2 linked regions of the Homo sapiens genome follow. The protein of the gene in region 2 purifies or fractionates together with the protein of the main gene of each other region. This does not show direct contact. Each region holds a gene or a part of one and is shown on either strand. Other genes may lie near its edges.

Evidence for each region.
Region 1: the proteins of FBXO45 (region 2) and CDH2 purify together in Homo sapiens (affinity purification with mass spectrometry; 2 studies listed by BioGRID and IntAct, with this or other methods). This does not show direct contact.

Annotation. Positions count from the first base shown.
Region 1 is NC_000018.10:28,170,398-28,174,317, forward strand, and holds part of CDH2 (cadherin-2 isoform 1 preproprotein), read right to left. Parts: intron 1-3,920. UniProt on the Homo sapiens protein: Calcium-dependent cell adhesion protein; preferentially mediates homotypic cell-cell adhesion by dimerization with a CDH2 chain from another cell. Cadherins may thus contribute to the sorting of heterogeneous cell types.
Region 2 is NC_000003.12:196,578,457-196,582,376, reverse strand, and holds part of FBXO45 (F-box/SPRY domain-containing protein 1), read right to left. Parts: intron 1-3,920. UniProt on the Homo sapiens protein: Component of E3 ubiquitin ligase complex consisting of FBXO45, MYCBP2 and SKP1. Functions in substrate recognition but also plays an important role in assembly of the complex.

The sequences.
Region 1 (3,920 bases), on a different chromosome or scaffold from region 2:
TGCAGTGGCATGATCTCGGCTCACTGCAACCTCCGCCTCCCGGGTTCAAGTGATTCTCCTGCCTCAGCCTTCCAAGCACCTAAGATTACGGGTGCCTACCATCATGCCCAGCTAATTTTTTGTATTTTTAGTAGAGACAGGGTTTCACCGTGTTAGGCAGGATGGTCTTGATCTCCTAACCTCGTGATCCACCTGCCTTGGCCTCCCAAAGTGCTGGGATTACAGGCATCAGCCACCATGCCTGGCCCTCTGTAGCTTTTTTAGGTTCATGACTATTCCCAAAACATGAGGTGGCTTAACAATCGCTTTCTTGAACCTGAACTAGTAGAAAATGTTTTGTTCCCTACAGCAGGGGTTATTAAATTTAGCTTAACATTATGCCATAATTTCTTAAATCATTTCTTACTCATGGACTTTTAGAGATCAAATAATCCAATCTTTCGTAATCATAAGCAATGCTTCAATAAATATCTTCGTATATGTATCTATACCATGTGTTTGTCATAAATACATGCATACCTGTACCAAAAAAAAAAAAAAACTAGAGGAGGCCAGGAGCAGTGGCTCGTGTCTGTAATCCGAGCACTTCGGGAGGCCGAGGCAGGCGGATTCCCTGAAGTCAGGAGTTCGAGTCGAGACCAGCCTTGCCAACATGGTGAAACCTCATCTCTACTAAATATACAAAAATTAGCTGGGCATGGTGGCACACGTAATCCCAGCTACACAGGAGGCTGAGGCAGGAGAATTCCTTGAGCCCGGGAGACGGAGGATGTAGTTGAGCCAAGACTGTGCCACTGCACTCCAGCCTGACAGAGCGAGACTGTCTTTAAAAAAAAAAAAAAAAAAGCTAGAGGAAAACTTGACAAAGGGCTAGAGCTGTATTTTTAATGCTGACCCACTTATATTTTTAATGTTGACCCCCTATCACTCAATTCAATGGCTCTCCTGAAGGCTATCTTCTCTCAAAGAAACATGAGCTCATAAAACTAATAAAAAAAATTTTCTCAGTAATATTACACTTACCTTCATTTTAAGCCTAAAAATAATTTTTATTCTCAGTAATATTACACTTACCTTCCTTTAAGCCTAAACCCCTCCCCAAAATTGTTTACTTTTACTGGCAAAGGTAGCACAGCCAATGAAGAAAATTTTAAGTTTAAAATTCAGGCATATAAAAAATATAGATGACTTTAAACCTATCACGATAAACTACGGTTAATAAATCTTCAAAACTCACATTCTATCACTCCAAGTATCTGAAAATTCTTACATTTTCGGCTGAAAAAAGCCTTTCCACAACCTTCGAAAAGGAGATGTGTTTGAGATATTTTTTAAGTAGCCCCAGGAATCATGCAACTGGACAGTCTCTTAGAGATCAACTAATCCAACTAGGCCCAAGATTTTATTGTTGAGGAAAATGAGGTCACGGGACTTTAAGAGAGTAGACTACATCTGGACGAAATCAGAACCCCATGCTTCCTGCCCTGGACACTAGCTCTTGCCCTTGACACTACACAAGGGCATTCACTTACACAGATCAGTTATTATACTGTTGGTGCCTAAACCACCTTTCATGACATAAAGTAATCAATCAATTATTGATTGACACTTCATATCAGACTGTACTCAGTGTTGCAGGAGACTCATATGTATATAGCAGTCCTCAACATACATTTGGGGTGTGTGTGTGTGTGTGTGTGTGTGTGCGTGTGTGTATGCAATCCAAGGGCTTGGGGGCTGTAAGTACAGTTGGAAGCAGATGAGGAAGTGCACTGAGTACCAAAGAGTGAGCGACAAGGAATAAAAATCTAAGCAGAATTTAATCTAAATTTTCCTTAAAGAGACTATTATAACATAAATCATAATGTTTAAATCTACATCTTTCAAAAAGTCCCATTTAGCTTGTGAATTCACCTTGTTCTGCCTACTTTAGACCTATCACTTCATACATGCAGAAGATATAGCTCTTACTAAAACATTAATATGTATATACCTCTTCCTTGGCATGGATAAGGTTGTTTAATTAAAACTTACATGTATTTAGTTAAATACAAAGACTAGCATCTGCTCAAATTAACTGATGTCTTTTTCTGAAAAATTAAAATAAAAATAAAATTTTAGTAGAAAAAAACAGAAATGTGAGACACAGTGATTTGTTGGTACCAATTATGTTTCAACTTAAAACTCTTAACTTGAAAATACTTAGGTTCTAGCAAGTATACTGCTGTCAGAGCGAAATACTTATTCAGATGACAAAATCCAAATTTAAAAATCTATCACATTTTTAAATGGCTGACAAAAACCACCACCAAATCTAAGCAGTGCCTAAACTTGATTACTTTTTTGTATTTGAGCCAAAAGAACAAATCTGAATGTTAACCTGGGAAAAATGGTAGTGTATATACGAACACAACACTTCTTAAATAACAGCTCTGATTTTTAAAAATCACTCTTCTAACTTCATAATAACCCCTTGAAAAGAAGATGGGGATTTTAATCACTTAGGATTAAAAAAAATAGGATTTAAAGCAAGATTAACTGTTGCTTTAAGTCTTGACATTTCCCTATTAATAACCCTAAAGCTTAATGAGGCACAACAGATTTAAGAATTGAAATTGTTAATGAAAAAGAAAATTAAGGACAGTTTGGTGCTCTATACCATCATGAAAATAATCTGCTCCAGAAAGATTTTAGTCTCTACATGTAAAAAGCAAGAAATATCTAAAAAGTATTTCCTTGTAAAATCTCAGTCTGAACTTTTAGAAGGTTAGGGCAGACTTTGATGAAAGTATAAAAGTCAGAAAGTACCTATGGTTTAATATATAGTGTTTTAAAAACAAGTGAGGATACATAAAATACTGTTTTTCAAATTACACCTAGTATGTTTGTAACCTTTCACCTATTAGTAATGACCGCATGCCTCAAGTTAAGAAAAGCAAAGAAATATACATAACTGTGTCTAGTAAGTAAACTCTGAACACCAAGTTAACTCTTCTTATTTTCACAAGAACTTATGTTTCAAAAGCACATGAAAATCAAATAAATACTGAGAATAAACACGATTTACACTTAAAATCACTGCTGAATCCTTGCCACATTCTAGAACAAAGCTGCTTCTTTTTATGTATACTTCATATGTTGAATATTAATTTCTTTAAAATCTGTACCTAATAGGTGAAAAACACATAAGGTTTATCCATCGTTTTTCCAAGGTCCTCACGCAGGGTTGAAACCAGGATCTGTTAAGTCTTAGAAATGAATTTCTATGAACATTAAAATACTGTCCTAGATGCCCCATAACCCATACAAACGTATTTAAATTAGAACAATGGGGTTATGCAATTAAGATGTGAACTAGAAAAACAACACAGGTTTCTAATATATTAATTAACTAGGTCAATGGTAAAAGCAACATTGATTTTTTTTCTTAACAATAAACCTATGTAAAGATTTGAAAGTCACTTGTATTATTTAAAAGGAAAGCTAGTTATAACTTTGTGATATAATATTTTATACTTTTATCAGGTAAGCTGAATGCTCAAATTCGGATTTTTTAATATAAAAAAGGCTAACATCTTAAAATAAGACTAAAGAAAATCTTGATGTTGAACATCATAACATGCAAGATTGACTAGAATTATGTAAATCTACATAACAAGACTAACTAAACTAGTAATTTCTCTAAGTAAAATAAGGTACACAGACACTTCAGTTAACAATTCAAGGCACAGAGTCCTTTGAATATTCAATTATATTTAGCTTGTAAAAAAACAAGGGTGCTCCGTATCTGCACTAATAACCTACATATTCTCTTTTCTAAAACTATCGGCTGCTTAGTCTGGAATTTAAAAAAAAAAGAAAAAAAAAACCTAGACTGTTAATAGCAGCTGACTGCAGGACAGCCACTTTCACCTTGCAGA
Region 2 (3,920 bases):
CATCATCACCACCACTCCTACCAACAAAATATTAACAAAGTAGAAATGAAAAGCTAATTTTGTTGGGTATTTGTGTTGTGTCGTATTTGTATTATCCCATTTAATCCTCACACTAATCCTAGGAACTATCCCTATTTTACAGAAGTTGAAACTAAGTAACGATTACTCCTGGTGAAATCTGCAAATCTGCTTCACCTTTGAGCACACAGCACGCACAAAGCCCAGGGTGGAGAAAGCGAAGTCTTACCATCTTTAGGTGCTGGGGTAAAACGTGGGGAGATGGCAGAGCAACTGGAAACTTAGAGGAGGAACTCCAGAAGCAACAGAACCACAGAAAGGATGAACCCCAAAATCTGAGAATTAACTTCCCAAATCCCTGAGTGACCACTATATTACAAAGGCACAGGGTAAACCTCCAGGACTAAAAAAGCAGCAAAGCTGAAAAAACTGAGCAGACATTAGCTGCCACACATCACATGAGACAGAGTTTATAGTTTGAGTATAGGCAAGTTAACTGCCTACTAAAACAAGAAAACCTATACTTTTCAGAGAATAAAGCAGTTTCTAGAAACAAAACATTCAGGAGTTACTACTACATATTATCTACACATCTAGGTTTCAGTTAAAAAAATTACTAGATATGAAAAGAAACAGGAAAGCGTGATTCATATTTAGGGGAAAAAAGCAATCAACAGAAGCTGAATCCAAGTGGTCCTAAGTGTTGGATTTGGTAAAGACTTCAAAGCAGCTGTTATGAATATGTCCAAAGATTTTTTTACAAATATAGTATAAGTAAATAAATAAGGAATCTCGAAAAGGAAATTTACTCTAAAAAAGAACCAGGCCCAGTGTGGTGGCTCACGCCTGTAATCCCAGTACTTTCACTTTGGGAGGCCGAGGCGGGCGGATCACGAGGTCAAGAGATCGAGACCATCCTGGCCAACATGGTGAAACCTCATCTCTACTAAAAATACAAAAATTAGCTGGGCATGGTGGCACACACCTGTAGTCCCAGCTACTCAGGAGGCTGAGGCAGAAGAATCACTTGAACCCGGGAGTCGGTGGCTGCAGTGAGCCCAGATCGTGCCACTGCACTCCAGCCTGACGACAGAGTGAGACTGTCTCAAAAAAAAAAAAAAAAAAAAAAAAAAAAGGAAAAAGAAAAAAAAGGAAATTCTAAAGCTGAAGTGTACAATAAGCAAAATTTACTAGCCCAGTTCAATAGCAGAGGTGAGATGGCAAAAGAAAAAAATTTATAACCTTGAAGACAGAACAGAAATTATCTAATTTAGGTCAAGCCCAGTGGTTCATGCCTATAATCCCAGCACTTTGGGAGACTGAGGCAGGCAGCTGCTTGAGCTCAGGAGTTTGAAACCAGCCTGGGCAAAATGGCAAAACCCTGTCTCTACAAAAAATACAAATATTAGCCAGGCATTGGTGGGGAGCACCTGTAGTCCCAGCTACTCTGGAGGCTGAGGTGGGATGATCACTTGAGCCTGGGAGGCAGAGGTTTCAGTGAGCCAAGATCATCACGCCACTGCACCACTGCACCACTCCAGCCGAGGTGTCAGAGCGAGACCCTATCTCAAAAAAAAAAAGGAAAAGAAATTATCTAATGCAAAGATTAGAGAGAAACAAGGTTGGGGGAAAAAACAAGAACATAGTTTTAGAGGCAGAGATAAGGACAACATCAAGCAATCCAACACTTACATTAAAGGTAAATGAACTAAACACTTAAAAGTCAGAGACCGAAGCTGGGCGCAGTGGCTCACAACCTGTAATCCCAGCAACTGGGAGGCCAAGGCAGGTGGATCACTTGAGGTTGGGAGTTCGAGACCAGCCTGACCAACATGGAGAAACCCCGTCTCGCCAGGCATGGTGGCTCATGCCTGTAATCCGAGCACTTTGGGAGGCTGAGGCAGGCGGATCACGAGGTCAGGAGTTCGAGACCAGCCTGGCCAACGTGGTGAAACCCCGTCTCTACTAAAAATACAAAAATTAGCTGGGTGTGGTGGCGCATGCCTGTAATCCCAGCTACCCAAGAGGCTGAGGTAGGAGAACTGCTTGAACCGGGACCCGGGAGGCAGAGGTTGCGGTGAGCTGAGATCATGCCATTGCACTCCAGCATGGGCAACAAGAGTGAAACTCTGTCTCAAAAGGAGAAAAAAAAAAAAAAGAAACCCCTTCTCTACTAAAAAAATATAAAATTAAATTAGCCGGGCGTGGTTTAGAGGCGCATGCCTCTAATCCCAGCTACTCGGGAGGCTGAGGCAGGAGAATCACTTGAACCTGGGAGGTGGAGGTTGCGGTGAGCCGAGATTGCGCCATTGCACTTCCAGCCTGGGCAACAAGAGTAAAACTCCGTCTCAAAAAAAAAAAGTCAGAGACAGAGACTGGGTTAGATAAAAATCAAGATCCAACTATGTGCTGTGTAGGAGCTCCACTTTAAATACAAAGACAGATTGACAGAGGATTACTAGAGTCAAAGGAAGTCATTTCATAATAAAAGAATAAATCAGGCAGGGAGATAAAACAATTAGAAATGTATATGCACCAGTAGTAACAGAGCTCCAAAATACATGAAGCAAACACTGAGAGAACTAAAAGAAGAAAGACAAATTAGCAAGGATAGATGGAGATTTCAATACTCCTCTTAGTAAATAATAGAAGGGTAGAAAAAAATCAGTAACACTATGTAAGACTTGAACATTATCAATCGACTTTGCCTAATTCTCATTTACAGAATATTCCATTCAGCAAAAGAATATACATTTTTTCAAGCACACATGGGACACTCATCCAGACAGACCACATATTAGAATAAAACAAATCTCAATAAATTTAAAAGGACTAAAACCATAGAGCATGTTCTCTGAAAAACAGACTTAAGGACTTTCACTTACAAAATCATTACAAGGGTGGCGACAGGACTTCGTTTTTAGTGATAAAGTCTACACACCCTTCTCCTTATAGTATCCGCAGAGCCTAAAAGGATAGTGAGGAAACATTCCATGAAAAAAATCCTTCCAGCTTTTATACCTCAGAAAATGGGATGTATTTTTGGTTCTTCTGCTTTAGTATGCCTGACTTGAGGTCATTACTGAGGCTGGAACTTTCACGCCACAGGTGGCTCTGAAATATGCAATCTATAGTTCTTTAAAGACTTCCAATTTCTTATCAGATTATTGTATATTACACCCTGTTAAGTCTGTAGTAATAAATACGGCTTTTACAAATAGGAACTATAATTTTAACTTGAGTCAAATGAGTATGCCTTAAGCCTAAGATGAAAAGAATAAAAAATACAGCAGTTTGCCTGAATTTGCCTGTCTCTGCAGAACTCACTGATGCCTCCAGGGGCTTTGAATCCACAAACATGTGCATGCACAGAGCTGTATTTACTGGGGTAAGGAGCCTAGAAAAAGATTTGGATGTGCCGTGATACAGGAAAGATGACCATCTAGAGCAGGGGTATTCAATCCTTTGGCTTCCCTGGGCCACACTGGAAGAATTGTTTTGGGCCACACATAAAATACACTAACACTAAAGATAGCTAATCAGCTTTAAAAAAAAAAATTGCAAAAAAATCTCATAATGTTTTAAGAAAGTTTATGAATTTGCATTGGGTCACAATCAAAGCCATCTTGGGCTGCATGCAGGCTGTGGGTTGGACAAGCTTGATATAGAGCATGAACTGGCAAACTACAGCCCCTGGACCAAATCTGTCCTGCAGCCCATAAATAAGGTCTATGGAATACAGCCATGTTCGTTCATTTACGTATTATCGATGACTGCTTTTGTACTATAAATAGAGTTGAAACTCGTGATAGATCCTTACCTTGAAAATGACATTAAAAAAAAAAAGTTGTGACAGAGACCATATGGACTGCAAAGACTTAAAGATTTACTACGTGGCCCTT